Homo sapiens: one gene and its partners. The protein of the gene in region 3 interacts with the protein of the main gene of each other region in a biochemical or structural test. Each region holds a gene or a part of one and is shown on either strand. Other genes may lie near its edges. The genes, in order: HTRA3, GRID2IP, UNC93A, MAGI1, LDB3, SNTG2 and TJP1.

Region 1 (3,500 bases), on a different chromosome or scaffold from region 3:
AAGAGCTTCAGAGACTTCTGGGGCAGAGCTGGGACTCCACCCTGAGCAGCCAGACATGAGGGACAGAACTGGGTCCCAGTCCTGGTGCTCTGCCCATTATGTGCTGGAGCAGGGTAATGCACACAGGTGGGCAGGCTGTACATTGCACAATTCCAGGGAGTCACCTGCTACCCCTGCACTAGACCTGGCTTTCAGCTTGGGGAACATATGGACGTGTCCTCGCCATATCTTTGCTGCACCAAGGACAGCGGTCTATGATTTTAAACCCTGTCCCACCCATTAGTCCACAAACACCCTCATCAAAACCAAACAAGGCAGACACTTCGAGCTGCTAGGGGCCTGCCTGGTATTCAGAGCACTGGCTGGGGAACCAGGGGACCTGGGCTCAGGGCAGAACCATCCATCCCTACCTGAGTGACCGAGGGCAGCTTCCTACAGCTCCCTGAACCCTTTCTCATACAGGACCAGGACATCAATACCCCAATGATGTGTTGAAGGCTTTGTGGGCCTGGAACAGTGCCCAGTGTCACACCGTTCACCCTTGTGAAACCTGGTGGCCTCCCTCCCTCAAAGCAAGCCTGGGCGGAAGGTGTTCAGACCACCTGGCAGGCCCTGGTGAGCCTGTGGGAGGCCAAGGGTGCACAGGCCCCCTTGTACCCACCTCTCCACAACTAGACGCCCCCATCTCCAGAAAGCCCTCCTGATCTAGCCCTCTCTCCACTCTGAAGGTGGTTTCTTCCTCTTCTGGGCTCCATGCATTGTCATTGGTCCCTCACAATGCAGGATGGGGGTTTCACAGGGGTCTGCGGCTGTGGTGATGTGGGCAGGAGGCAGTGGTTGGGGTCACCAAGCCTGCGAGCCTGCCAGGAGGCTATGCTTAGTCCTGAGGCCGTGGGAGCCATGGCCCAGCTTTCGGCAGGGAGGGTCCGGGTCTCGCCAAGTCCCTTCAGGCTGCTGTGTGGGGCTGCATGGGAGGGCAGAGGCCTGTCGGGGGAAGACCACAGGATGGCAGATGGGGTGAGGGTGCATTTGCTAGGCCAAGCCCCGGCAGGAAGGGCAGCTGCACAGCGCCCTGGTCTCAGCTCCAGTCCGGCTGGACTCCTGGCTCCTGGCAGCCTTGGCGAAAGCTCTTGGCCAAGCAGCTCTGCCGGCAGTTCCAAGTCCTCCAGTGCCGCCAGATGCTGTGGCTCAGCACTGCAGCCCCAGCGGGAGTGGGCGGGGCAGGAGGGGAGGCGTCATCTTGCCTGAGTGGTCCCAGATGCTGAACTCCAAGGCATGTGCAGCCCCAGGAAGCTGCTAAGAGGATTACAAATCAAAAGCCAACCCAAGTTCTTCAATAAATACAACCGGGAGATGCCATCAGAACCTGCTTGGGGTTGCACAATAAAAGCCGGTGATTAAATGCCACCTTGTAAACTGCTCTGGGGCTCTACATTCTGAGCGCATGGCAGGCTCCAAGGCCTGTTTATCTGCAGCCAGAGGAGAGGCTGCATGGCCTCAGAGCTCTGGTTACGCGCAAAGGGAAACCCTTCTCCACACAGGCCCTCAGAAACGCATTTATCCCTGCTTTTACCATCCCGTGGATGGACATTTATCCACTCTGTGCAACTGCGATGCCTTAACATGGACCTGAGAAGATGCGAGGGTTCCCCTGAGAAGTGGTGAGCCTCTGTCACTGGAGGGATGCAAGAAGGGCCCAGAGGGTTAGAGGAGATTCACACATCACATGGGCCCTCGTCTCATTTCGTGTCATCTACAGAGGCCACGCACTGGCCCAGGCCCCTGCCCGGCGAGGCTTCGAGCCTGGAGGAGATGGGGATCACGCAGAGAAATTGACCCACAGTCACATCTGTGTGCAGGGCCCACCGGAGACCCTGGGTGTGCTCACCAAGCAATGAAGGATGACCTGGGCACAGTGGCCAGGGCAGGTGGCTCAGGGGCGGTGGGACATCCGGGTGAAGGCAGGATGAGGAACCCACCACGCTAAGGCAAGGGAAGGAAACGCCGGGCAGTGGGCACATTGCGTGCAAAGGCCTCGAGGTGGGAAAGAGACCGGTGAGGCCATGAGGCCAGAGCACAGGGGATGAGGGGACAGTGGGAGACGGCACCGAGGGTGATGCGGGCCAGGTGGCAGGCACAGGGCCCTGTGAGTCAAGGTAAGTGCTGGGGTGCCTTGCAAGGAAGCCTGCAGGTCATGGGCAGGACAGATTGACCAAGGTGATCCTGGCTGCTGTGTGAGAAGTGATGGAAGGGAGGATGGAGGGGGAAGTCAGAGCGCCCCAGGAGATGTTTTGTGGATGAGCTGAGGGGACTCCCGGTGCACAGGAGAATGAGGGGTGGAGGGGAGTGAGAGGCAGAGAGGAATGAGGGGTGGAGAGGAGTAAGGGCCCCCATCCACACAGCTGGGCTGCAATGGGCAGGCCCAGGAAAGGTACCCCCACACCAAGTCCCAAACTGATGAGCCACTGTGACAGTGCAGCAGGCATTGAGGGGAGTGAGGGGAAGAGGGGAATGAGGGGCGGAGGGACGGAGGGGATCGAGGCTCCCCACTGAACATCGTGGTGCTCCTTTCAGTGGGGCTGGGAAGAGTAGAGCCCGAGGCGGCTCAGCAGGCATCTCCACGTGACTCTAACTCAGGAGAGACCCGGGGGCTGGAGATAGGGCCCGAAGTCCCAGCACCTGGGGAGGACTTCATGGCAGATGAGCTTACTGGGGCGGGGGTGCGGGGGGGAGGGTGGCGAGAAGGGACCAAGGAGACCTTCCTGCCTAGAGGGTGGGAGAAGGCGGAGGAGCTGACATGGGGAGGGGAGAGGAGAGCACAAGGAACCTCAGCCCACAGGAGGCTGCCCTCATCAGGCAGGACTTCCTCCCAGAAATGCCCGGCAGCGCCTGGCACACCACTAAGTGTGACCGGCACCCAGCAACTTCTGGCTGGGACCTCGGGAGGGCAGAAGCCGGCTACGCTGCTGGAATACTCCATGGAGGCTGAGCCTGATGGAGCCGGGGGCCCAGGCCTGACCCGACTCCCAGCCTCAGGGGCCCTGCCACCCCTTGCAGAGGAAAAGCCAGGAGGCCCACAGAGCATAGCCTGCAAAGCCAGCCAGACCCAGGCCAGGCCCAGCCGGGTCACTTCCTGACCATGTGACCTCAGAGCAGTCCCTCACCCTTCCTGGCCTCCAGCAGCACATCTGTGGTGCCTGGGAAAGGACCAGGCTTGCCGTGGGAAATGAGACAGGGCTGGGGAGAGGCCGGGCACCCAAGGCCTCCACAGGGAGTGGACTCTGCGTGTCGCCCTGCCGAAAGCTGGCTGTCCAAGGTCCCCGTGCACCGGGCTACAGTGGCAGGGCTGCACACCGCCCACAGTGTGAACGGCGCCCTGGAGATGGCCAGCAGCCTCCCACCTGCACTCTCTGCCTCCCCTCCCCACCAGGCCCCATTTCCCCACCTGGCTCCGTGGGCTCTGGTGGCGACAGGGCTCTCGGGTCCTGTGCAGGTCTCTG
Region 2 (4,257 bases), on a different chromosome or scaffold from region 3:
AAGGCGGGAGGATCACTTGAGGCCAGGAGTTGGAGACCAGCCTGGGCAACATAACCAGACCCTGTCTCTAAAAAATGAAAGACAGCCGGGCGCGGTGGCTCATGCCTGTAATCCCAGCACTTTGGGAGGCCGAGGCAGGCGGATCACAAGGTCAGGAGATCGAGACCATCCCAACTGACACGGTGAAACCCCGTCTCTACTAAAAATAGAAAAAAAATTAGCCAGGTGGGCGTGATGGCGGGCGCCTGTAGTCCCAGCTACTCGGGAGGCTGAGGCAGGAGAATGGTGTGAACCCGGGAGGCGGAGCTTGCAGTAAGCCGAGATCGCGCCACTGCACTCCAGCCTGGGTGACAGAGACAGACTCCATCTCAAAAGAAAAAAAAGAAAGAAAAGAAAAAGTAAAAAGTTAGCCAGATATGGTGGTGCACGCTTGTATTCCCAGCTACCAGATACTTGGGAGGCCGAGGTAGGAGGATCTCTTGTGCCCGGGAAATCAAGGCTGCAGTAAGCCATGATCACACCACTGAGCTCCAGCCTGGGTGACAGATCAAGACCCTGTCTCCATAAATAAATAAATAAAAGACAATCCTCCTTTGATCCTGAAAGCTGCTCATTCTCCTCCCTTCTGTAGTCTGGAGCCGTCTACACGTGCTGTTTCTGTACCACTGCCCTTTGCCACTGCAGTTCACTATTGCACTTGAGGCTCTCCACGACCCAGCTCTGGCGAAGAACCCCAGACAGTGACTCTCAGACCTCGATCTTCAGCCGAGAGCTCGCTCTTGAACTCTGGAACTGTATATCCACCCGCTTTCTAGATGATTCCAAAAGGGGAGGAGAAGTAGCGGGAAGCTTCGAGGGTTTCCAGTCAGAGGCCACGTTCTGTACACGTCTGAATCCTAGCACAGATGCACCATGAGTCTGTGTAACCGTCTGTCTCCCCCACCCAGGTGTGATGATCCGGGGTCTCATGCTTGTCCAGCCCCAAGCACAGCGCCTGGCACATATTAGGCACTCAGAGAATGTGGATGGGACTGAATCAAAAAGCAGCCTTGCATTGCACTTCCTGCAGGCCCCAGCTCACCACTGTTTCCCTCCCTGTGAGTGGGCCAGGCTGGCAGCACCAGCCGCCCCCTCCCCACGCACGCGCCGTGCTGGGGAAGGTTGCCAGTTTGGAAATCAAAGTCAGCAGCAACCTCAATTCAAAGGAGAACATGGCTGGCTGCAGAGATGTTTTATGTAAGAAAGAGGAAAAAATAGTTCCTCCCTCCTGGGGCCCGTGCTACAGTGCGGTTTCGGTGTCAGTTATTACCCAGATGTTCTCAGCCTACATCTAAGCATGAGGTATCATCACGGGACACTAATGGATTTTCTATTAAATATCAGCCACTTCAAGGAGGAAAAACTGGGGCAGGCAGAAAGCGCAGGCGAGAACTGGAGGGCTGGTGATTGAAAACCAACCAGTCTGGCGCAGTGGCTCATGCCTGTAATCCCAGCACTTTGGAAGGCAGAGGCAGGTGGATCACCTGAGGTCAGGAGTTTGCGACTAGCTTGACCAACATGGTGAAACCCCATCTCTACTTGAACTCCTGACCTCAGGTGACCTGCCTGCCTCGGCCTCCCAAAGTGCTGGGATTACAGGTGTGAGCCACCGTGCCCAGCCAAGCCACCAAGCCTGGCCTGTCTCTACTAAAAAAAATACAAAATTAGCCGGGCGTGGTGGTACATGCCTGTAATCCCAGCTTCTTGGGAGGCTGAGGCAGGAGAATTGCTTGAACCCAGGAGGCGGAGGTTGCAGTGAGCCAAGATCACGCCATTGCACTCCAGCCTGGGCAACAAGAGCGAAACTCTGTCTCAAAAAAAAAAAAAAAAAGATAGAAAACCAACTGGGCTCCACGGAGGCCCTTCATCTTCCAGAGGAAGTCATTTTTGGAGATTCACTCTCAGCTTTTGTGGGTGCCCAGCGAGCCCTAACCAAAATCCTCCACTTCCCCGTTCCTCCTTGCCAGAAAACACACTGCAGCTGGCCTGGGCAGCCTGTCGGATTCTACCCTCAGCGGGTTGCTGCCCAGCCCTGCTCCTGGGCAGGTCTTCTCTTGCATCCTGCCCTGTTTGGAGCTCTGAACGTGCCCCCTTCCAACTCTGCAGGGATTAGATGGAGTCTGGGATAGACCTTTGGCTCCATGGCAGGTGATCTGGGATTGTAGCAGGCATTACTCGCACTCACCAATATTTCTAGGTCTTCCCTCTTTCCTGGACACACATTAGACTACATTTCCCAGCATCCTTAGGGAGGAGCAGTGTACCTAGTTCTGCCCAATGAGCATTGAGGACAGGTGCTGTTCTAAGAGGAGATGCACAATTTTCCAAGCTCTCTTCCTCTTCCATAGGGAACCCTGAAGCTTCACATAGAGATGGAGGAGTCTGAAATGCTGAGACCTCGTATGGACATCAAGCCACCCTAGAAAGTCTACTGACCCCCTAGAGGACTCTGTGGGTGAAAAGTAAACTTCTGTAGTGCAAACGCACTAAGTTGTTGATTTTGGGTCAGGCACAGTGGCTCACACCTATAATCCCAGCACTTTGGGAGGCTGAGGCAGGAGAATTGCTTGAGGCCAGGAGTTTGAGACTAGCCTGGGCAACATAGCAAGACCTCATCTCCCCAGTCTTTTTTTTTTTTCTTAATCAGCCAGGTGTGGTGGTGCACACCTGTGGTCCCAGCTACTAGAGAGGCTGAGGCAGGAGGATCACTTGAGCCCAGGAGTTGGAGGCTGTAGTGAGCTATGATTGTACCACTGCACTCCAATCTGGGCAACAGAGCTAGACCCTGTCTCAAAAACAACAACAATAAAAAATGTTGGGTTTGTTTGTTATAGCAGCAGAGCCTGTTGTGGGTACAGGAAGAAAGTCACAGCTTTGGAAGATCTGGACTTTGGTGATGTAGGGAAGCTGGAGTTGAGTCCTGTGTGTATGCGAGTGTGTGTATCTGGCCACAGAGGCTGGTCTACTCAGGGTCAGAAAAGCCCATTCAGGGGATCAGGCTAGGGTACATGATGGAGGAGACACTCCTGAGGGGGTTAATTTGGAAGGGGTTAGGACTGGACCAAGCTTGGGCACTGAAGGAGGCCAGAGTGGGTGGGGACCTGATGCCTGGGCAGTGGGCTGGGAGGCATTTCTGCAATAGTCAAACTCCGACAAAGTTTCCAGGCTCCCTGACCTCCCAAACCCCATGGCCAAGTGCTGCTGGGGCAGAACTGAGCAGATTCCCTTCCACGGAGGAAAAGTCTGTGAGCTTGATAACACAACAGGGTGACTATAGCCAATAATAACTTAATTGTCCATTTTAAAATAACTTAGGCCAGGTGCAGTAGCTCACACCTGTAATTCCAGCACTTTTGGAAGGCCGAGGTAGGCAGATCTCCTGAGGTCAGGAGTTCAAGACCAGCCTGGACAACATAGTGAAACCGTGTCTCTACTATAAATACAAAAATTAGCCAGGCATGGTGGTGGGGGCCTGTAATCCCAGCTCCTTGGGAGGCTGAGCCAGGAGAATTGCTTAAACCCGGGAGGCGGAGGTTGCAGTGAGCCGAGATCGTACCACTGTATTCCCTGGGCAACAGAGCGAGACTCTGGCTCCAAAAAAAATAAATACAAACTTAAACGGTGTAGATGGATTGTTTATAACTCAAAAGATAAATGCTTGAGGGGATGGGTACCCCATTCTCCATGACATGCTTATTTCACATTGCATGCCTGTATTAGAGTATCTCAGATACCCCATAAATATATACACGTATTAGGTACCCACAAAAATTAAAAATCAAAATAATGTAAAAAAAGTTGGCCAGATGCGGTGGCTCACGCCTGTAATCCCAGCACTCTGGGAGGCCGCAGCAGATGGATCACGAGGTCAGGAGTTCAAGACCAGCCTGACCAATATGGTGAAACCCCATCTCTACTAAGAATACAGAAAAAAAAAATAGCTGGCCATGGTGGGGTACGCCTGTAATCCCAGCTACGCGGGAGGCTGAGGCAGGAGAATCACTTGAACCCAGGAGGTGGAGGTTGCAGTGAGCCGAGATCACACCACTGCACTCCAGCCTGGGTGACAGAGCGAGACTCTGCCTCAAAAAAAAAAAAAAAAAAGTCTATGAGCTTAAGTGTCCCAGCCGCCAAGCAAATACTGAGTTTCCAGGCTTCATGTCCACAGGGGTCCGATAGCCAGGCAGGGGTAGGGACTGAGTGTCTTGGCTCCGGACT
Region 3 (4,257 bases):
AATCTCATGTACTTTTTTCTTTTTGACTAATTTTGAAAACTTGAAAAATTTTAATTATGTCAGAAAAGCAGTAAAACAAGTAACCAGCACTTTTCCAAGTTCATTCTTCCCTGAATCTTTGCAGAACACGAATAGGATTTTCCACCTCCCAAAGTGTCTTAAATCGAGTCTAGGGACATGTGCCTAGACTCGATCTAAATCTATTTTGAGACACTGGGTCTTTCCACGTGACCTGTAGTGATGCCTCCCCCCAGGTGTCCAATGTCCTTTCCACTGTCACTTTGATTTCTCAAGAACCTACATCTTGTCACATTTGCCGTCATCTCATGTCTCCTGTCCACTCTGACTTCATAGAGACCCTTCCAGAAGAGCAGCTCACGTCCTGTGGGGCCAGTGACTGCCTGATGGCCACCACAACCACCAACAGCACCCAGAGGCCCTCCCAGCAGCTGGTCTACACCCTCCTGGGCATCTACACTGGTACGAGCTCCATCGGCCCAGGGCAGGGTCCCTAGCAAAGCAGAGCCAAGCCTCCTTCCTGGGCTGACAAAGACTGTCTCTCCCAATGTAAAAGTAATCTCTCTTCTTCTGAAATATCCTTGCAAAATGTATTGGTCTGGATTATATGCAGGCGGTGTTCTTATGAATCAAATGCAGTACACCCGTGCTGTCTAACAGAGGATCCTGGGGTGATGAGATTGTTATACATCTCCAGAGCCCAACACAGCAGCCATTAAGCACTGTGGTTGTTTACATCTTAACTGATTAAAGTTTCAGTTCCTAAGTCTCCCAGCCACACTGCAAGTGCTCAGCAGTACGGGGGCTGGCGGCTACCATTACAGACAGCTTGGTGGCTGGCTAGGGCACTGGGATTGACTGTTTGTGTTTCAGCTGTGGCCAAGGGGCCCTGAACATCCATAATTGCTATAAGCCACTTTTTTTTTTTTTTCTGAGAAATGTGCTGAGTACCTTCTGTGGAAAGGCTAGAGGGGCGAGTGCTCCCAAGTGCTTGTTGCACCTTAGCTGGAGACGTTGCAAGCTCATGGTGAAAGGGCTGCCCAAAGGAAGTTAATTGTCATGACGAGGCTCATTCTTAGAAGTTCATTTTAATAGAGAATGTTATGTAATAGTTTCATATGTGACTTCAGTGTTATAGTCAAAGGTTTATTACAACTTTGAAGGGGATACATTTAGAGAGTTTTAAAAACCATTTTGTAAATAATTTAAATATTTTTTTTTTTGGCTGGGCATGGTGGCTCACACCTGTAATCTCAGCACTTTGGGAGGCTGAGGCGGGCAGATCACTTGAGGTCAGGAGTTCGAGACCAGCCTGGCCAACATGGTGAAACCCCATTTGCACTAAAAATACAAAAATTAGCTGAGCGAGCATGGTGGCATATGCCTGTTATCCCAGCTACTCGGGGGGCTGAGGCAGGAGAATCACTTGAACCCGGGAGGTGGAGGTTGCAGTGAGCCAAGATCGCGCTGCTGCACTCCAGCCTGGGCAACAGAGCGAGACTCCATCTCAAAAAAAAAAAAATACACACACACACACACACACATATTTATATATGCATGTACATATACATATACACGTATATATTTCTATATGTATATATATATATATATATTCTTTGTCATTCTTGGATTTGGGGATTCATAAAGGCCTTGGAATGGGTCCTTCTTAAAGATCAAAGGCCTGGCACCTGTGAGCTCTGGGGGTACCAACTCCTGCACTCTGCCGGGGTCAGAGGTGAGGAGGGTTCGTGGGCACTGCAGAGCTTTTCCTCATGCTGAGATGATGTGCGGCACCAACCTCAGGTCCCCTCAGGCCACTTCCACATCAGAGGCTCTGAGTGAGCACTTGTAAAGCTATCGCTGGAAGTCGACAAAGTGTACTGAGCACGTGCTAGGCCATGCTAGGCCTTCTTGGTCCAGACATTCAGATGACTAGAAGCTCGCCTTTAGTAAGCTGAGAGCCTAGTGAAGGAGGCAGACACACACCCAACTAACCGAGACCAGTCCGACAGTGTTCTGAGCACAGTTCCCAGCTGACTTGCAGCTGCATCTCCCTGGAGCACGGAGTTTCAGGAAAGCCTCCAAGGGCGGGTGGTCCCTAAGCCGAGTCTGGACAATGAGCAAGATTTGGCCAGGCAGGGAAGTGATGCTGAAGTCCCTGGAGGCGAGATGTCCAGGAAGAGCCCGCAGGGCTGGGGGCAAGGTGGAGGGGCAGAAATGGGGCACAAGACTAGCTGTGGCCCTTGATGTTGTGCCAAAGGGTCTGGACGAGTGCAGACTTGCCTTCTTGACAGACCCCATGCCAGCGTGACTTAGAGGTGCAGAGAGACAGCGGGCAGAGACCCACTGAGGACGGAGTGCTGAGTCCAGAGGAGGGAGCAGGTACGGGGAGGCAGAGATGGAGGGGCTGAGAGAGAGGCCAGCAGGGTCCGTGTGGGTTGGACATGGTGTGGGGAAGAGAAGACAGCCCTGGGGTTGACAGGAAGATGAGCTCAGGCCGGGAACACCTGGCTTGAGGACGCAGTGGGACTCTTGCATAGTGTCCAGTGGGCAGTCTGACGCCGTGCAGGGCTCAGGCCAGAGGCCAATGCAAGTGTGGACGTGGAGGCATCTTCCAACATGGTGACTGGAATCATGTCAGGGATGAGGCTCTTAGGGAGAAAAAGCAGAGGGAATTGTTACAGAGAAGGGAGTATAGCTGGACCCCTGGTTCAGCAACACTGAGGGCCAGGCAGACAACTGGAGCCTTGGAAGGAGACAGAAAACCAAACCAGGGTCTTGGAGGACACCAGGGTTGTAGAATCAGCTGGGGAGGGGGTTTGAGAGTGTTGAGTGTGGCAGGGCCCCTAGGAGGCTCAGGGGGGAGGCTGGACGAGGCTCTTAGCCAGTGAGAGGCTGTTGATGCCCATCAGGCGAGCAACCTGGGGAGGGTGCTCGTGTGCAAGGCCCAGACTGAGGGTTTCAGAAGTGAGTGGAAGGTGTGGACAGGGAGTCAGGAGGAGCCACGGTTTTCTCTGGTCTGCAAGTCTCTGCTGACTTGGAATTGTGGTCATGTTTTCCCAGCAGGCCCCAAGGTTCCCATCAACATGGTCCCAGGGACCAGCCAGGCCTGTGCTTCCCCAACACTTCCCCTCACCACCTCCTCTACATAACTAGGAGGCTGGGGGACTCGGGGACATTGAGCTGAGTCAAGACCATCAGGTCTCCTTCCAGCTCCACAAATTCCAGTTAGGCAGCCACCAACAAAGACTTCTCCTATCTATAAAAGAACAGAATTTTGGAGTGGGGGCTGCAGCCTTCCTCTGTGAAGGGCTGACAGCAAATATTCCTACATGTAAGTATCTTTCTGAGGATCATATGGTCCTTGTTGCAATTGTTCAACATTGTCTTTGTAATGGGAAAAAGCCATAGACAACATGTAAGCAAATGAGCATGCCTGCATGCCAATAAAACTTTATTTTCAAAAGCAGGCAGTGGGCAGGCTTTGGCCCGCAGGCCATAGTTTGCTGGCCCCTGCTCTAGAGGAACAGCACAGGCTTCTCTGTGGCTTCCAGGCCCTTCATTGCCAGCTGTCCTCCGCAGGTGGCTGTTGTCTGTGGAACCTCCCCTGCAGGGTTACCCCCAGTGTGCTCTCTGGCCACAGCCCCATCTCGGTTCACGGAATCCCGCAGCCTAAGGGAGTCCAAGTCTAGAAGTTATGTAGAGCAGAGATCACACACATGTAAATGAAGAAGTGGTCTTACTATTGTGATTGTAACAGTCCTGCAGGATCCTGTGTGTGTCCTTTTCTATAAAGCAAGACCATGTCTCCATAAAGAAAAACATAGGAAGAGAGAAAAATGGACCTAAAAGAACAAGAACACCCTCTCCCTGGGTAACTTTCCTGGGTTTCTGAGCATTGCATTCATAGTCAAGTTTCTTGCAAAGAGCCATTCTCTTTAGAATTTAGGACACAGCTGTGCAGCATCCCCCAATTCATGCCCCACAGAAGGCTCTGAGTCACATGACACCCGGACATACATAATTCTGAACAAAGGGGTGTGGCTTCTGTGTTCATAACCTGCCTCTCCCCTTCCCACAAGGCTTTCGGGGAGATTGTAGGTTGTGTCCTATTGGGCTGCTTGACACTGAAGTCCTGGCCCACAAGACGAGATTGTGAAGAAGGCGCTGCCTTCAGTGAGTGGAGGAAAAATGTGCCTTTTCCACATGGTCTACACACAGTCAGCTCAGGGGGTCGGC
Region 4 (4,257 bases), on a different chromosome or scaffold from region 3:
TTTCAAGGTGGGAGCTGCATCCAAAGGTGAACAACCAAGGTGTGTTCAACGTGAGCTTTCAAGGGAAAGGACAAACACTCACACAATTCACTGTCTCAAAATGGCAGATTCTGATACAGCAGTAAACCATGAGTCACTAGAATGGCAAGGAGGGAATGCTAAAATCTGAAGGCAGTTGGAGGAAGGAGGAATTTCCAAGGGAAGAAAGTTATATTTGAGCTGAGCCTGAAAGGATATGTAGTATTTTGAGAATTAAAGTTCAAAGCTTATGGGCAGGAAGAAGGAATCAAAGCTGACCTAGAACTGGCCAGCTCTACAACTTTCTTGTAGAAAGAAAAAAAAAAAATCTTGGTTTAATACATAGGACAGTAAGAAATCAGTAACTTTTTTATGAGCTTATTTTGTAGCACAAACCCGATTTTTGTTCCCTTGATATGAAGCTACAACTCTTCTGACTTTCATAATGACCTCATTTGCTGAGGATTAGCATCAAATGAAGAGGATGGCTAAGTTCTGATTTGCAAGGAGATAGAAGGGAAGTAATATATATTCAACTAGCCTTCCTCTGGAAGCCTTTGTTGAACACATGCAAACGGCACATTAAAGTACTTTAGAATGACAGTAATTTTTGCAGGGTTTGAGAGAAGCAAGCCATCTGGAAATTCTGAGCTTGATCACATTTGCAAACATTTGCTAAAATAGACGCTCAAGGAGGCAGACACAGGAAGGAGGCCTTTTCTGTGAATAAAGTGACAACGCACTGTCTGAAGGAATGAATGAAATACATACCCGCAAAAACCACTTTACGCCGCACCGTGAGATTGACGTGGCCTTGCTTGGCAGCTTGTTGCATAAGCTGGACCACAAGCTGGTGTGATTTTCCAATTACTGGCGTCCCATCCACACAGATTAATTCATCTCCAGACCTCAGGCGGCCGTCAGTATCAGCAGCACCCAGTGGTACGATGTGACCAATATAAATCTGTTGAGTAATTGAACGATGGATGAAACATTGCTCTCCTATGTTTACTGTTACATCAATAGCCTTCACATCTCTGGGAACAATTCATTCATTCATGTCTGCAGGCATGCCGCAAACATTTATTGAGCACCCACTGTGTACAAGACATTGTGCTAAGCACTGCAACAATTCTTAAATGGTGGAAAGAGTATTTCTTGCTTAGTTTCCAGATGTTTATCTGTGGCCTATTGATGACTCACTCTCTTTTTCCCCTTTGCAGATATAAATTACTTTTCTCCCTTCATTATATACCCTATTCTTCTTTGGTAGCTACCTAAAAACTCTCTTTCCATAAAACTCTGCTAATTAAAATATTAATATTACTTTTATTTAAGGGTCTAGCATCATGCCTAGGAATAGGGAATCTGTAATAAATACTCTTAAATGAATGAATGAAGCAAAAGTTGGTTGGACATCTCCATTTTTGAAGTCTTTTAGCACCCGAAAGCAGAGCACTCTTTATAGTTAGTGTCTTGCTGTTATATTTGCCATTCACTAAACCTTAGCTAAAATATTTGTGCCTGCCTTGCCTTTCCAGCAGACAATAATGCTATAGCTACCTTTACGTGGCATTTATAGTTTACAAAGAACTTTGACAAAATAGTTGCTAAGAACATGAACTCGAGTCAGACCTTATTTGTCAGTCCCTCCATTTGGTAGCTCTGCGATCTTGGGCAAGTTAGTTAGCCTTTCTTTTCCTTGATGTGAAAACGGGATAAACTGGTGGGTTTGACGGATAAATGAGAGAATGTATGTTAAGAGCCTTTAGCACAGAACCTGGCACATAGTAAGCGCTCGATGAATAATGGCTGTTATTACCACAAGGAAATTAACGATACCTATTTCAGTTTTCTTTTCTTCCTTCAAAGGAACCCTGTTATGTTATTCTAAATTTATTCCAAAATGGAGGACACTGAGGCCCAGGGAAGTTCAATGTTTCTTGACCCTTACTCAGGGTTCTTTCTCAAGTTTTGTAAAGGCAGGGGTCTGACATTCTCCAATCACTGTCTCATAAGGCTTTGCGAAGTACTCTCTGCACACCAGCAACTCAACATACAAAGCCTACTACCTGCTGGCAGAGTGAAGGGACCTGGCCAGAAGGACCAGGCCACTGTGATATTAGGTGATGCCTATTCCTGTTTTGCTTTCTGTTTTCATCTCCCTTGGGGGAAAAGGGGTGGTCTACAGAGGCAGCTCCCACCTTTCACAAACACTCATACAAACTTTTTAGAAAGAATCTAGTCTCTTCTTCCTCAAGACAAAGAGAGCTCCACAAAACCCAATGAGAAACCCACACTACTCAAGATTAAAGAGTCAGTGTTGCATCTAGCTGGACTTAAATCTTGGTGATTTGTCACTGTCGCCAATTTGCTTTGAAGCCTTAGAAAAATATGCTGGGAAGAGAGACAAGCAAAAGACTCACAGGTTCCCCTGGTTCATTTCCACCCAGAATCCTAAATCCAAATCCAGTCTCTTTTCTCCAGAGGAAGATGTCCTGTTCCTGGTAATCTGGAACTGCAGAGAGGGGAGAAAAAAGAGAAGGATTATTTTACTGATAAAAGCAATGATACCCCCAAGATGAACACAGTTGCAGGACAAGAATGGTGGTGCTTGATCAGATGGAAGATTTTCAATATAGGCAAAGAAACAAAATACTCTGAACAGGTGAAATAATGGAAGACACGGGGATAAACAGTGGGAATAGTCACTGAGCCCTAAAGTTCTTCACAGGACCCATCACTGTTTGATAATTCCGAATCAAGCCCAAGCCATGATCCTTAACTACAAATAGTCAGCATTAACTGCTTTCCTCAGTATTCTTGCAAGGAGAATTAAGTAAATTAAAATTATTATGTGCCACACCACAAAGCAGGTGTCCATGTCCAAGAACACTCAGGCTAAGTCAGAGTCACCTCTGAAGCCAGATCTAAGGATTCGGAAGTCATGTTAAGTCACCAGATGTTTCCTCTACTAGAGGATGAAAGAGAACAGCTTGGTTTAAACAGACTTTCTGATTTATCTTTAAGTCACTTTCTTCTTCCTTAAAATAATTAAGGCTAGCAATGCTAATAGGCTTTGTTAGATCATTTTTGCCAAAAATTACTCTAAAACATCCTAGTATTTCTGCATACAGTCAGTCCTCCATATCTGTGGGTTCTGCATCCTTAGATTCAACCAATCACAGATAGAAAATTTGTTAGACCTACAATGGTTTTAGCTGTGATGAATACGTACAGATTTTTTTCTTCTCGTTATTCCCTAAGTAATACAGTATCACAACTATTTACATGGCATTTGCATTGTATTAGATGTCATAAGTAATGTAGAGATGATTTAAAGTATATAGGAGGTGGGGTGCAGTGGCTCACAGTGGCACTCCCAGCACTTTGGGAGGCCAAGGCAGGCGAATCGCTTGAGCCCAGGCATTCAAGTCTGGGCAACATAGTGAGACCTTGTCTCTACAAAAAATAAAAAATGAGCCAGGTATGGTGGTGTGTGCCTGTACTCCTAGCTATTCGGGAGCTGAGGTGGGAGAATCACTTGAGCCAGGGAGGTTGAGACTGCAGTGAGCCATGATTGCCCCAGTGCACTCCAGCCTGGGTGACAGAGTAAGACCCTGTCTCAAATAAATAAACAAACAACAAACAAACAAATAAATAATATAGGAAGGGGTGTGTGTGTGTGTGTGTGTGTGTGTGTTACACACAAATATTAGGCTATTTTCTAGGGATTTAAGCATCCATGGATTTTTATATCCTTGGTGGGGGATGCGGGTGTCCTGAAACCAATCCCCAGCAGACACTGAGGGGTGACTGTACAAATTTTATTAGGATTTCAATACTATTACCAAAATCAGCCAGGCCTCCAAATCCTTAAGATCAATGGTGATGACAAAAAGTCTATGTTAATGAATCATATATCTCATTGCCAAAATGACTGCTTTACTCTAGAATTTGCCTATGATATTTCAGCATTAAAAGTATTAATTCATTTTCCAGTAACCTGATATTTTACTTTCAATACTCAGCAATGGTCCAGGGCTTTAAAATGAATATCTTGTTTTTTAAAACAAATGCAATTTCCATAAGAAAATACTTACTATACATGAAATTGTTCTATACACCACTCTGTTACTTCACTAAAGTAAAAGAGTTATTTCTATTTAATTCTTACGTAATATTTTAATGTATACATAGGGTGTTTTATGACCTATAAAATGATATATCATTTTTTTA
Region 5 (4,257 bases), on a different chromosome or scaffold from region 3:
TGCAGGCCACCCCCTTGGTGGCCCAGGGCTCTGATCTTCCAGACGCTTCAGGGAATGTGCTTCTTCCTCAGAGCAGGGCTCCAGCTGCCCAGGCCCCCTCAAGTCCAGTTTGCTGAGTAGCTGGCCATCCTCTACCCACAGGAGGCTCTTCCCTCCAATGGATAGGTGCGCTCCCCGGGCAGACAAGATCCAGTGCAGCCCTTCTGAGGGGTCGCCAGGACAGAAAGGTCTTCAGGCTCACACAGGCCCAGCAGCAGCACAGCCTGTGTCCCCCTCCCCCTGCGCCCGCCACCGTCACCAACCCCAGGCACATCTTAAGCAGCTGCTGCAGCAGGAAATTGGGAATGAAATTAGAACCATCGGATGGAGCCCCCACTCCCACCCCCAAATGCTTCTACTCCAGCTTCACACATGCAGGCTCACCCAGGGGTACAAGTGTACCCCACTCATACATATGCACATACATGTACACATGCCAGCAGGCACACTCTATCCACGCCAGACACACGCAGACACATGCTGGGGCTGGCACGCAAGCGCACACACATGCTGTCCTTTGATACTAACTTGGCTGGAGAGTTGACTACCACCTGGGGAGGAAAAGGGCAAAGAAGACAGGGTGGTCAGAGAGAGGCTCCACCAGGGGCAGTTTGAGCGCCGGGGCCATCATCAGCCTGGTCATTGTGGAGGCAGAACCAGCCCAAACCGCAATGGGTGAGGAGAGCAAGGAGTGAGGAGGGAGAACTCAGAGCCGGGAATCACAGCTACTGGGACCCTCGGTTTGGTTCAGAGACTGACACAGCAATGTTTCCCTCTTGAGGGGTCCCCAGTGCCCTCTGCTTTGCCAGAAGAAGGGTTTTCTTGTCTATCTTCAGGGGCACTCGTACCGCATACATGAATCCCCCACATACAAACCTGGCTATAGACCCCAGAGTGGAAGCTAGGGGTGGAGACAGGACCAGCTGTGGCTGCTATGGAAAAGGCTGAGGCCCAGGGGCCTCCCTGCCTGTCAGCAGCTCCGGACTAAGAGTCTGTTTTGTGGGGGCAGCTCTGGAATTCTGTCCTGAGCAGGCATTGCAGTGGTAAGGAGGCAGGGTGTGCGCGGGGTTTCCTATGCCCCCCCAAACCTGACCTCCTCTCCCTCCCAGAAGAGACGCAGGCAGCTCTGGCTGCTCCTCTTGGGGTATAGGGGAGTGGGGTGCACAGTCACCAGGGGCCACTCCTAAAGGCCCCTTGGGCCAGCAATGAGGCAGGATGGAGGAGCGAGCAGGCGCAGGGAGAAGTGTGAGCTCAACAGCCGAGGCAGCACAGTGAGAGGCCCCTTCCTCTCACTCTGACCTGAGAGTGAGCCTCCCAGAGCATGGTCTCTGTAGGGAAAGCAGTGTCTGTCCTGTGTTTCTTTAAATGCAAATTCCCTGCAGTGGCAGACCCTGTGGCCAGCAGCCCTGTCGGGGGCCTGTGAGGGAGACAGTGTGGAAGGTGGGGGGCTCTGTCCCCAAACTCTGCCACCTTCTTGAATCTGCCCAGTGTGGGCTGTAGCTGGGGGAGCTTGGGCCCCGGCCAGCCTGGCCCTGGTCATTTGCAGCCAAACCCTGGGAAGCCAGGCTCAAGTCAGTGGTCCCCGGTCCCAGGGAGCAGCACAGTGGCCCTGCTCTGCCCCAGGCCCGCCACTGCCTCAGAACTGATAAAATTCCCTCTATCCTCCCAGGCTCAAAATAGCTGCAAGTGGAGCTATATTAGGAAAGGGCCAGCACGGAGCTCCATTCCTTCTCCATTTTTGGCCAGTGCTGACAGCTGCAGGGTCATCTCTTGCCCTGACCAGCCCAGGGCCCCCTGCAGAGGGCAGTGTTGGCCTGGCGGGGTGGGGGCTGCCTCTGCCCTCCCTTGGCAGCCTGCTCCTTCTTTGACATTTATTCCTGCCTCCTGCTCAGCTTCTCCCACCCAGGACCTGGGGCCGGGATGGTGGCAGCAGACACATCTGAGAGGAGCCAGTGCCTGGGTCTTGGGGAAGATGAGCCAAAGATGTAAGACCTGCCCAGGGGCCCTTGCACTGAGTGGCCTGAGGGGCACTGCCCTTCAGTGCCAGCCTCAGAAGGGAGGAGAAGAAGGGGGCTGCTGGGATGCCTATGCCCGTCTGCCCTTGCACCACATCTGTTTCTCTCTCCTCCTTCCAAGAGGATACGAGGTGCCAAAGAATTGCACTGCAAGTTGCCCAGAGGAGAGAGTAGCGGAAGGGGCTTCTTTTTGGAGCCAGACAGGACAGAGTTCAAGTTGTGACCCTGCCTCTTCCTAGCACTGTGACTCCGGGCAAATTACCCACCCGTCCCAGCCTGTTTCCTAATTCTAATTCTTGAGATGGTAGTGCCTACCCCGCAGGTGGGTTGTGCAGACTGAACGGGTCATGAGTCTAAGGTGCTCAGCATGGGAGAAGTGTGCCATGGATAAGCACGGGGATTAGCCCTTGCTGACCCTGTTGCTGACCCACTTAGCATAGGTGGTGGCCTCAGCCCAGCAGAGGTTGCCCTAGGCCAGCCCAGGTCAGAGGCTCCAGCCCTTCCTGCCGGCATTGCCTGAGACAGCAGCATCAGCTTTTACTTTGGATGAAGCACCCACTGCACATCCTCCCCTAGCCCACCATCCCTTGGAGGAAACGTCAGACTCTGCTGCTCTGAGCACCAAGAAATAATTTACACATTCATCAGGGTCTGGGCAGCCCCTGCACCGACAGCAGAGTACCTTAGGCACTATGGGAAGCAGAGGTGGGCCTGGCCCCTCACTTCCCTGAGCAGGCAGCAAGTCCCTGTCTCAATGCAAAGTGGAGTCAGGCAGACCTGCATGCCAGTTCTGTCTGCCACTTACTAGCTGTGTGACCTTGGGCAAATTACTTGCTCTCTCTGAGCGTCTATTTTCCAGCTATAAAATGGGGAAAATCATGCCCACCTCTGGAGTTGCAGAGAGAGTTGTTTTAGAGAGTGTTGCTGAGAGATAAGGCATGTGGACTGTTAGCTGGTCCATAGCCAGAGTGCATGGTCAGTATGGGGAGACATTATCATCATTGCAGGTGGGTCTCCTGGGAGTCCCAGGCCACCAGAGGCTGACCTCTCTGCCTGAGGCCAGTTCCTGAAAAGGACCGGGAAGACCTACCAGCCCAACAAATGCGGGACAAGGAGGTCATCTCTGTTCTACTATTCCCTGAGTTTTCTGGCAAAAGTCCTTTGCTGGGGAACCCTGGGGGCATATATGGCTCTGTCACCTTGGGTAAGGGAAGCAAGCCATGTGGTGCCAGAAATCAGCTTCACTGAGGATTCTAGAAAGAGCTGGGGGGGTGGGGAAGCTGAGGGCCACAGGGAGCAGTGACCTGATGGGGCACAGGTGCCTTCTGCTGCAAGGGCAAAGGCAAGGGCATGGGCTTGGGCCAGACTGACCGGATTCCTACTGTGACTCTTCTGGGTGGCTCCAGGCAGTGATGATACCAGGTGTCATGCAGTGAGTGGGTGACAGACAAAGCTCAGAGCTTTACAAGTGTTGGGCCCTTTATCCTCCCAATAACCCTGAGACATGGACAGTGTGATTCCTCCATGATTCGGAGGAGGAACCCTGAACCACTAGGCTCTACTGCCTTGACTCAGCCTGCCCTGCCTGGAGAGGGCTATGCCAATTGCACAGGGCGGGAGTAGAAGTTAGGGTGAGAGAACAAGCGTGAAGGGCTCAGAGCTAACACAGGCCCAGTGTGGGGACTCCGTTCCTTTGCCTCCCCCCTACAGTGCCCCAGTCCCATGTCCTTTTACCTGCTGTGCTCCCAGAGTCCCGCCAGCTAGACCTTAGGGGTGAGGCTGCTGTTCTCCTGCACAGCCCCTTTCTCCTTGGGGTCCTGCTTCCTCGCCACCCCACCCTGGCCAAGGTCACTCCTGCAAACCCGCTCCCTGCACGCCACTGCCAAAGAGTCTCTCCATATACAATTCAAGGGCTCCCTCCTCCAGGCAGCTTCCCAGACTATTCCTAGTCCCAGATAACTCGCTTTTCCACCTCTCGAACGCTCCCCTGCTCCTGCCTCCGAGCTCCCAGAGGGGTGGGGACCTGTGCATAGCTCTTGAAGGCTGCAGGCTGTGCTGTCCTGTTCTGGGGAGTGGCCTAGTGAAAAAGTGTTGGAAGTCAGAATCTCCTGAATTCAGGACTGGCTCGGCCACATGGTAGCTGGACAAACGGACTGTGACTTAACCTTCTCTGAGCCTCAGTTTCCTCCTCTGCAAAATCCGA
Region 6 (4,257 bases), on a different chromosome or scaffold from region 3:
CTCTAATTCTGAGGCTCAAGGGATCCTCTTTTCTTAGCCTCCAGAAGGGCTAGGATTACAGGCATGAACCACCGTGCGCAGACTTCACCCCCTTTAGTGGAATAAGGACAGTACGAAACATAAGGAAGGACTATTCATAAAGAAATTCTATTTTTTAGGAATCCTAAATAAACTTTCACCCTCTAGAATGCTTCAGACATTCATTTCACTACATCTGGGTACTAGATGAAATTACTAACCTTTCACCCTCCCTCCAACACTGTAATTCTATGATTGCTCTTATTCAGGATATCTTCTCCTGTAACCTGTCACCTTCCCATAGATGAGTCTGAATGGCCACCGGGACTCTGCTCAGCCAGGCATGGGCCCTGGGGCACTAGAGGGTGTGGGGCAGCCCTGCACACACACGCGAATGGAGAATTCTCTCTACTTCTCCGGTATTTATGTTGAAAGCAAAATGATTACTGCTATCATCTAAAGAAAACAAGCAGAAAGGTCACCTTGTCCCAGAAACGCTCTTTCACTTTGCCTTTTAACGACTTGAACCTTTAGTGCTGATGGTTTCTAAGTGGCTAAATGCCACTATACATTTGAGTAAGTCCCTGAGATGAAGGATCCTATGTTTAGTAATTTTCTTTCCAGCATGTAATGTTCTATAATGGTTAATGAATTGGATGCTTCAAATATAAAGGTTACTTTAAGCATCAGGAATCAACCATAATTCCAATTTAGGGTGCCCAATTTGAGGGGAAAATCACAGCAGCCTGGGATAAATGAGAATAAACATTGGCATCAGTTTCTATGAAGATCTGGGTGTGACTTCATTCTGTGGACTAAGAGATCTCAGTGTGCATTAGTTACAGGGAAGCTTCGTGCTCTGTGATGGCATGCCAAGGAGCCTGGATACATTTTGACAACGTGAATGAAAGATAAATAACACAGAATAGTTTCACATTCAAGGTATATATGTATATTTAAATGAAGTAGCCATCTTTAGTTACTAAGTTCACACTCAGCATTCTCCGCGCTCAGCCAGGCGGGAGCCCTGGACTTTGGTGTGAAGTCAGAGCTCCTCTGGGATGCGCTGCCTCATTTATCTCCTGTCACTCTTCATTCCTGCAGCACACATCCTCCCTGAAGGATCATCCCGCTATTTAGGATAAGGAGGATTATAATGCATTCTTCCTCATCCCTTCACATGGTATACATTCAAATTTGTGAGTGATGTATTTGCTGTTGTCAGGAAGAGAAAAGCAATTCAGACACACAAGCTGTTTTATATTCTCCTTCGGACCATCAAGTTTGAGAGGAAGAACCATTAAAGTGCCTTAAAATATTACAAACATCCAAGTAACTGCACGACACATTATACTCATTTGTAAGCTAGGTGTTCTGTCTCCCGGAGCACAGGCTAGAAGTGTCATCACTTCTCAGGAACTTGAGCGCCACATCGGTGGAGTCCCTTCCTGGAAAGCGATGCAGCCCGTTCCTCACATTCAATGTAGACACAGACACAAAATCCTCTCCTCCCCTTCCCTTCCACTACAGCTCATATTTATCCACGGAGCGCATGACTCCGTGCGAACGATCATTTCCACACAGTAGCTCCGGTGAAAGATTCTCACCTTCTGAAGATTCCTCTTTTCCCCCGATAAACTGCTACATATTCCCCAATGCTATGTCTCAGACACCCGAGCAGGTGTAGGTGAGAAGAGTGTGAGTTGTTCACTTACCCCGGTTCTCTGAACTTCCATGAACGTGGCTCTTTGGAAGGACTTCTCCCACATGGCCAGCTCGCTGCCAAGCTCCACGTTGAAAACATGGCTCTTCCCATGGCCGGCCACGATGCTGAAGCAATAGGGCCTCTGGTCCTCAAAGTCAAAATCTTGAAGACCCAGATACAAGTTTGCTTGCAACCAGCAGTCCTCTGTGAGCCAGAACTGAAAAACAGAGCATGGATTGGAAACGTGCAGCGCTGGAAGGTCATTCCCATGCTGAGGGCCCTGGTGTGGGGAGAAGGCAGCGTTTGCGTGATCTGGGAAACGGTCTCCTGGGTGCAGACAAGGAGGCAAATTCAGAGCAATGAGCCCTCTCATGCACAGCTGGTGCGGAAGTGGTCCACAGACAAATATCTGTAAATAAATTTTGTCAAATGCTTAATTCTCTGTAAGTGCCTTTCCCTTAAAATACTGGTCACCACACACTTTCCTGTTTTACGGTGAAGAGAAAGATGAAGCTGGGTGTGGTGGCTCACGCCTGTAATCCCAGCACTTTGGGAGACTAAGGTGGGTGGATTGCTTGAGCCCAGGAGTCTGAGACCAGCCTGGGCAACATGGCAAGACCTTGTCTTCACAAAAATAAATGAATAAATAAAATACAACAAATTAGCCAGGTGTGGCAGCACACGCTTGTAGTTCTAGCTATTTGGGAGGCTGAGGTAGTAGAACGGCTTGAGCCCAGAAGCCCGAGGTTACAGAAAGCCAAGATCACACCACCAATGCACTCCAGCCTGGGTGACAGAGGGAAACCCTGTCTCAAGAAAAAAAAAAAAAAGATAAAGATGAAAGTCTTGAGACATTGATGCTTGTGTTTATCATAAAACCAGAAAACACTGAAAATACCACCACCACTCTAACTAAGCGTGCCCCCTGCGCCTCCGAGTCTCTATAGAATTACTGGCTCTTCCTCTCCTTGCGGGTTCATTGTCCTGAGATAAAGGACCGAGTGCCCAAAACGCCTCTGAAGCATGACAAGGCACCCGGCCACCCAGGAGCTCATTCTGCCAACCCAAAGGCCTGACAAAGGGAATGATGTAATGATGTTGTTCCATTTCTGGTTAATCGTTTAACCCAGAGATGTAAGTTACTTACAGCACGTCTATTAATCACTCGGCGATTCGGATGCTGCCAGCCTGTGCTGCATGGAGCAGCCTGGGGAGCTCCCCACTTCTTTCCCCCATCTGCAAGGTTGCACCCCACTTCGGGATTCATTTTATCAAGGGCAGAAGAGAAAGACTGGGGGTCCCAGTTGTCACAATTACTAGGTCAACAGCATGGAGGTGCATGGTGAACGCGCACTCAATACCTGGCTGGCACCTCTCTGTCTCTGTCTGTCTCTCTCTCTCTCTCTGTCTCCATTTCTATGTCTCTGTCTCTCTTTGTGTCTCTTTCTCTCTCTCCATTTCTGTCATTCTGTTTCTCTATTTTATGTCTGTTTCTCTGTCTCTCTCTATCCTTCTCTCTGTCTCTGTCTGTCTCTCTCTGGACCCACCTCAGTTCTCAGCTCACCCATTCATTTACTGGTCCACAGATCCACCCTGAAGAGCCCCCACCAGACACCTTCCTGGGACGCTGCACCCCAACATCAATTTTGCTGCACCAGTCTCTCCCCAGTGAAGGGAAACAAGGGGAGACACCTGGGCTGGGGTTTCCAAAGTCCTGAATGAGAATGTGGTGTTCACCCACAGCCCTGCATATGGCAGCAGAAAGGAAGGGGAGCTGCCCACCTGCTGGGTCTTCCCATCATGATTCTGAGATATCTCCATTCACTTGTGCCAACCAGCCAAGCTGGACAGTCCCCACTCACACTTACGCTCAAGGTCCAGTCCCAAAATCCACATGAACTCAGCAGTTGGCCAAATAGTTTTACTTGAAATATGCTGACACATGCACTCTAGGCACAGGTTTGAGGTAAAAGCTACGACTGGTGTGTCTCAGGTGGGCCTTCTGGACTCTCCGGGGGGATGCCCTGGCTCTCCTGGCCCCGCAGATGGCTCTGCAGGATGACCCTCTGATCATGGAGAGCATTGCACATTTATCCCTGTGCATCATCCAGACATCAAATGCCTTGTGGTGTGTGCACGTGAGAACATGTGTGTGTGTATGTGTGCACATGAGAATGTGTGTGCACACATGAACATGTGTATGTGTGGAAATGTATGTGAACATGAATGTGTGTGTACGTGAATGTGTGTAGTGTGCATACGTTGCTAACCCTAAATGAGCCTTGAGTACAGAAACTGCACTTTAATTCTGGGGCCCTCTGGATCGTCTCCTTCAGCTGGGATACCTGGAACCTATAGGGTTACACGTCACAAACCAAGAACAACATGTTCATCATTGACCTTATGGTGCAGAAAGTATCTCTTTATCCACTGAACTTAAATGTCAAAACTGATAAAGAAAAACTTTTGGAAGATATTTATGTGGGAACGCACATCCCCCATTGAATGGCTCATTATAGTTGGGCCTTGAACAA
Region 7 (4,257 bases), on a different chromosome or scaffold from region 3:
AGCAATGAAGCCACAGTCTGTACTCACCAGAGTTAAGATGTTTGAAAACAAAAGATCTGCATCCTTAGAGACCAAGAAGGATGTAAATGACACTGGCAGTTTTAAGGTAAATATGTCTTTAGTGCCTTGGATGCATGGGCACACCGTTTAAAAGGCTTCTTGGCTCTCCCCTCCGCCATTACATGATATCTATTCTGTTAATTATCTGTTCCTTAGGCATATTTGTCTTTTTTTTTTTTTTTTTTTTAAACAGCCTCCAGAAGTAGCATCTAAACCTTCAGGTGCTCCCATCATTGGTCCCAAACCCACTTCTCAGAATCAATTCAGTGAACATGACAAAACTCTGTACAGGTGAGTACACTTTGTGCTCTTTGTGGCATAGAACTGACCAGGAATTTAACCCTCTTAGTCAATAAGAAAACCTTTTACTGTGTTAGTAGAGGAGAGGTGTGAATAGGAGGAGTTTGTCCTTAAATAAAAACTATCAGCTCTCCTAAACAGTGATTCTAGGGGGAAAAAAAGTAGAACTTTATTTCTGACAAATCTGACAAATCTTTATACCTTTAGCAGACTTTCGGAAAGATATTCTCCAAGCAGATGATTAAATAAACATTTTTAAGCTCTGACATTTGTATTATGTTTTTTAGTTTTAAAAGTGCTTTTCGACATGTGAACTCTTAGTTTCCAGTGGTGAGGAAACAGACTCAGATTGGTTAAGATAACTAAATCATTTAGTGAGCATGCATAAGGTGCTTGCCCTTGTGCTAAGCACATCAGCATAATGAGGTGACACTGTTGTTGTTCTGCATTGTAGAGAGAGACACTGAGGCTGAGAGGGGCAAGTAGCTTACAAGACTTAGAGCTGGAAGAGAAACCTGGCCTGCTGCTCCTCAGCCTGAGCTTTTTCCCATGGCCTCATTGCACTGCCAATAAGTGACAGATTAGATTTGAATACAGCTCTTCTGATTTTGTTTTTTGACTGAATATATGTTTGCACTTAGGATAAAGAAGAGAACTGTCTAATATGAATTTACTTAATGACTTGCTTTCTTCCTCATCTGCTTTGTATGCCTTCTAGAACTTTAGACCATATAGAGTTATTTGTTCATATGAGAATCATTGAGATCCTGGACTGAGTTCTTAAAAATCCCTTTGAAAGTTCTTAAAGTCTATCATTTACTGTTCTTGACCTTGGTATATGTACTTCTCAAGATGTTCACTGTCTCGGTTACATTGCCCTTTGTCTTTCTGATTAACTACTTCTAACCTGCTGTTCCCTAATCATGTAATCGTTTAGCTTATTATATTGTGTTAAAGGACTCATGAGCCAGAAGGGGGCTGCCTTTTGAGTATACTCTGTGAGGACATGGGATTTGAAATATCCATTTTAACTGTTGGGACTGCTCAGATCCTCAGTAATCACAGCAGTTAGTAATTATTGACCTTTTAGTCAAGATAAGACTTACATATTCTACTTCCTTCATAACATTAATATTTAAAAAGGTGTTCCGTTTGTCATTCATTATCTGTTAGGATCCCAGAACCTCAAAAACCTCAACTGAAGCCACCTGAAGATATTGTTCGGTCCAATCATTATGACCCTGAAGAAGATGAAGAATATTATCGAAAACAGCTGTCATACTTTGACCGAAGAAGTTTTGAGAATAAGCCTCCTGCACACATTGCCGCCAGCCATCTCTCCGAGCCTGCAAAGCCAGCGCATTCTCAGAATCAATCAAATTTTTCTAGTTATTCTTCAAAGTAAGCTATTTCACCTGGCTTTTAAAAATAGGATGCAGCATATTAATCCCGTGCAGTTCAATATATTTTGAAGAAAAATAATTTAAGTGTAATATATGATTTCTGTAGGCTCTAGTGGTTCAGCATTGTACATACTTTTTAGTTCTGGGATGTGTGTTTTGTTTTTAAAGTCTGCTATTAGATGTACATAGTTTTTGCATTCACAAAGATGCTAACATCACAGGGTTTTGACGGAAGACAGTGTCAACCACAAGGACCCTCATCGATAGGTAATCATCAGTCTTCACTTCTGTACACACACCTAATGATGTCATGCTGGTTCTTTTTCTTTTCTGTTTTTATTTTTTAAATATAAATACAGATGTGAGGAGGATCCTGTTTGAGGGAAATACTGAAGAGGTTTTTTGTTTTTTGTTTTTGTAAGATTTCTGATCCAGTTTTACAGGTGAGGGAAAATGACAGGGCAGAGCTGGGACTGAACCCCAAGTTTCTTGACTCCCAGTCATCTTTTCCCTGTGCTTGCTGCTCCCCTCCGTTTACTCATCCCTGGGTTTCGTGTTGGTTTGTTCTCCTTTCTTGTGCCTGCGTGGGTTTGTGTCTCCTACTGGTTCTGTGTCTCTGGTTGAACCCTGACTGATAAGAGAATTTGGTACTGATAGTTGTGTCTAAGCCCACACGGGCACACAGGTAGATTCATACCTCAATAGAACAAAACCCACAAGAACAAAAACAGATGTGGATTTGTCAAAAGAAATTCATTTACACAGTTACAGGGGCTGGCTAAGCAAGTCCTATTTCAGAGGGCAGTTGGTCAGGAAGGGAAGATTTTGAGCTACTGGGGAGTGTGAGATCAGGGAAGGCCTAAATTCTCATTCAGAGGGCTCTGCTGATTAGGCCAGGCCCTCCCAAGACCATCTCCCCTCAACTGACTTGGGGACATTACACCTGAAAAATCCCTTCATGGCAGTACCTAGCCAGATTGACATATTAGAATTCATCACACATAGTATTGTGTCTATATTAAAAGCACCTAGATTTTTCCTTACTTAGTTGCGTGGGCTTGGGATTATCTTGGGAAATGACCTATTTGTCATTTACTATTGAGTGTAAATTGTTTTAGAACATACTTTAAAACCACTAACATTAAAACCTAATTTTAATTACCACTGCTTTTTTCTAAGACATCCTTTGTAGTGAAGACTTTTTTCACTGTCCTATATTTAAGGCTTTATGTTTACAGAAGAAAGCAGTTTATGAGAATCCAAATGCAAACTGAGAGTGCTGCAGTGGGGGTTGTATTAAATGCAAAACGTGTCTTGTACTAGTGTTGTGAACCACCCCTTAGCACAACACTAGAAAGGGGTTGTGGCATCTAGATGGTGTCTGGACTGAAGTGAGCTAGCACAATATAAACCCACACAGGTGCACAGCTGGGTTCATACCTCAACAGAACAAAACCCACAAGAACAAAAACAGATGTGGATTTGTCATTAGGAATTCATTTACATTTACAGTGTTACAGGAATTCATTTACACAGTTATCACAGTAACATCTAAATGGTGACTAGCCTAAAGTGAGCTAGGCACTGAGCCATAGGAGCTCACCTTTGGTAAGGCAGAAGGGTGTACCCTTTAGTTATTATTTTTACTAAACACCGTTAAACACATTCATTCCTGTCAGAAGAAGGCTCAGGTGTTTAGTTTAAAGATATCTCTTATTTATCGTTTTACATATTTGGTAAATAGAATACAACCTTAAAAAGATTATATGGCCAGGCGCAGTGGCTCGTGCCTGTAATCCCAGCACTTTGGGAGACCAAGGCAGGCTGATCATGAGGTCAGGAGATCGAGACCATCCTGGCTAACACGATGAAACCCCATCTCTACTAAAAATACAAAAAAATCAGCGGGGCGTGGTGGCGGGCTCCTATAGTCCCAGCTACTCGGGAGACTGAGGCAGGAGAATGGCGTGAACCCGGGAGACAGAGCTTGCAGTGAGCCGAGATCGTGCCACTGGACTCCAGCTTGGGCAACAGAGTGAGACTCTGTCTCAAAAAAAAAAAAAAAAAAAAAGGCTGGGCGCAGTGGCTCACGCCTGTACTCCCAGCACTTTGGGAGGCCGAGGTGGGTGGATCATGAGGTCAGGAGATCGAGACCATCCTGGCTAATATGGTGAAACCCTGTCTCTACTAAAAATACAAAAAATTACCTGGGCATGGTGGCAGGTGCCTGTAGTCCCAGCTACTCTGGAGGCTGAGGCAGGAGAATGGCATGAACCCGGGAGGCGGAGCTTGCAATGAGCCGAGATCGCGCCACTGCACTCCAGTCTGGGCGACAGAGCCAGACTCATCTCAAAAAAAAAAAGGAGTATATTTAGGTCTAAAAAGTAAGTTGTTTTGCCAGGGAATCAATCAAAATGCATGTTTGCTTTCTGTGTTAATTTGTTTTTCTAGAAAGAAGACTTAGCTTATTTGTGATGTATAACTTTAGGGTGTA

Evidence for each region.
Region 1: the proteins of UNC93A (region 3) and HTRA3 interact in a test that uses a peptide from one of them, tested with the Homo sapiens proteins (one large-scale study listed by IntAct).
Region 2: the proteins of UNC93A (region 3) and GRID2IP interact in a test that uses a peptide from one of them, tested with the Homo sapiens proteins (one large-scale study listed by IntAct).
Region 4: the proteins of UNC93A (region 3) and MAGI1 interact in a test that uses a peptide from one of them, tested with the Homo sapiens proteins (one large-scale study listed by IntAct).
Region 5: the proteins of UNC93A (region 3) and LDB3 interact in a test that uses a peptide from one of them, tested with the Homo sapiens proteins (one large-scale study listed by IntAct).
Region 6: the proteins of UNC93A (region 3) and SNTG2 interact in a test that uses a peptide from one of them, tested with the Homo sapiens proteins (one large-scale study listed by IntAct).
Region 7: the proteins of UNC93A (region 3) and TJP1 interact in a test that uses a peptide from one of them, tested with the Homo sapiens proteins (one large-scale study listed by IntAct).

The regions. Positions count from the first base shown.
Region 1 is NC_000004.12:8,272,754-8,276,253, reverse strand, and holds part of HTRA3 (serine protease HTRA3 isoform 1 precursor), read right to left. Parts: intron 1-3,500. UniProt on the Homo sapiens protein: Serine protease that cleaves beta-casein/CSN2 as well as several extracellular matrix (ECM) proteoglycans such as decorin/DCN, biglycan/BGN and fibronectin/FN1.
Region 2 is NC_000007.14:6,544,717-6,548,973, forward strand, and holds part of GRID2IP (delphilin), read right to left. Parts: intron 1-4,257.
Region 3 is NC_000006.12:167,297,591-167,301,847, forward strand, and holds part of UNC93A (protein unc-93 homolog A), read left to right. Parts: intron 1-354; coding exon 355-480; intron 481-4,257.
Region 4 is NC_000003.12:65,381,088-65,385,344, forward strand, and holds part of MAGI1 (membrane-associated guanylate kinase, WW and PDZ domain-containing protein 1), read right to left. Parts: intron 2,537-4,257; coding exon 2,445-2,536; intron 983-2,444; coding exon 790-982; intron 40-789; exon of another isoform or gene 1-39. UniProt on the Homo sapiens protein: Plays a role in coupling actin fibers to cell junctions in endothelial cells, via its interaction with AMOTL2 and CDH5. May regulate acid-induced ASIC3 currents by modulating its expression at the cell surface.
Region 5 is NC_000010.11:86,682,011-86,686,267, reverse strand, and holds part of LDB3 (LIM domain-binding protein 3), read right to left. Parts: intron 591-4,257; coding exon of another isoform or gene 568-590; intron 1-567. UniProt on the Homo sapiens protein: May function as an adapter in striated muscle to couple protein kinase C-mediated signaling via its LIM domains to the cytoskeleton.
Region 6 is NC_000002.12:1,265,048-1,269,304, reverse strand, and holds part of SNTG2 (gamma-2-syntrophin), read right to left. Parts: intron 1,941-4,257; coding exon 1,734-1,940; intron 1,234-1,733; coding exon of another isoform or gene 1,210-1,233; exon of another isoform or gene 1-1,209. UniProt on the Homo sapiens protein: Adapter protein that binds to and probably organizes the subcellular localization of a variety of proteins. May link various receptors to the actin cytoskeleton and the dystrophin glycoprotein complex.
Region 7 is NC_000015.10:29,714,115-29,718,371, reverse strand, and holds part of TJP1 (tight junction protein 1), read left to right. Parts: coding exon 1-106; intron 107-253; coding exon 254-351; intron 352-1,533; coding exon 1,534-1,761; intron 1,762-4,257. UniProt on the Homo sapiens protein: TJP1, TJP2, and TJP3 are closely related scaffolding proteins that link tight junction (TJ) transmembrane proteins such as claudins, junctional adhesion molecules, and occludin to the actin cytoskeleton.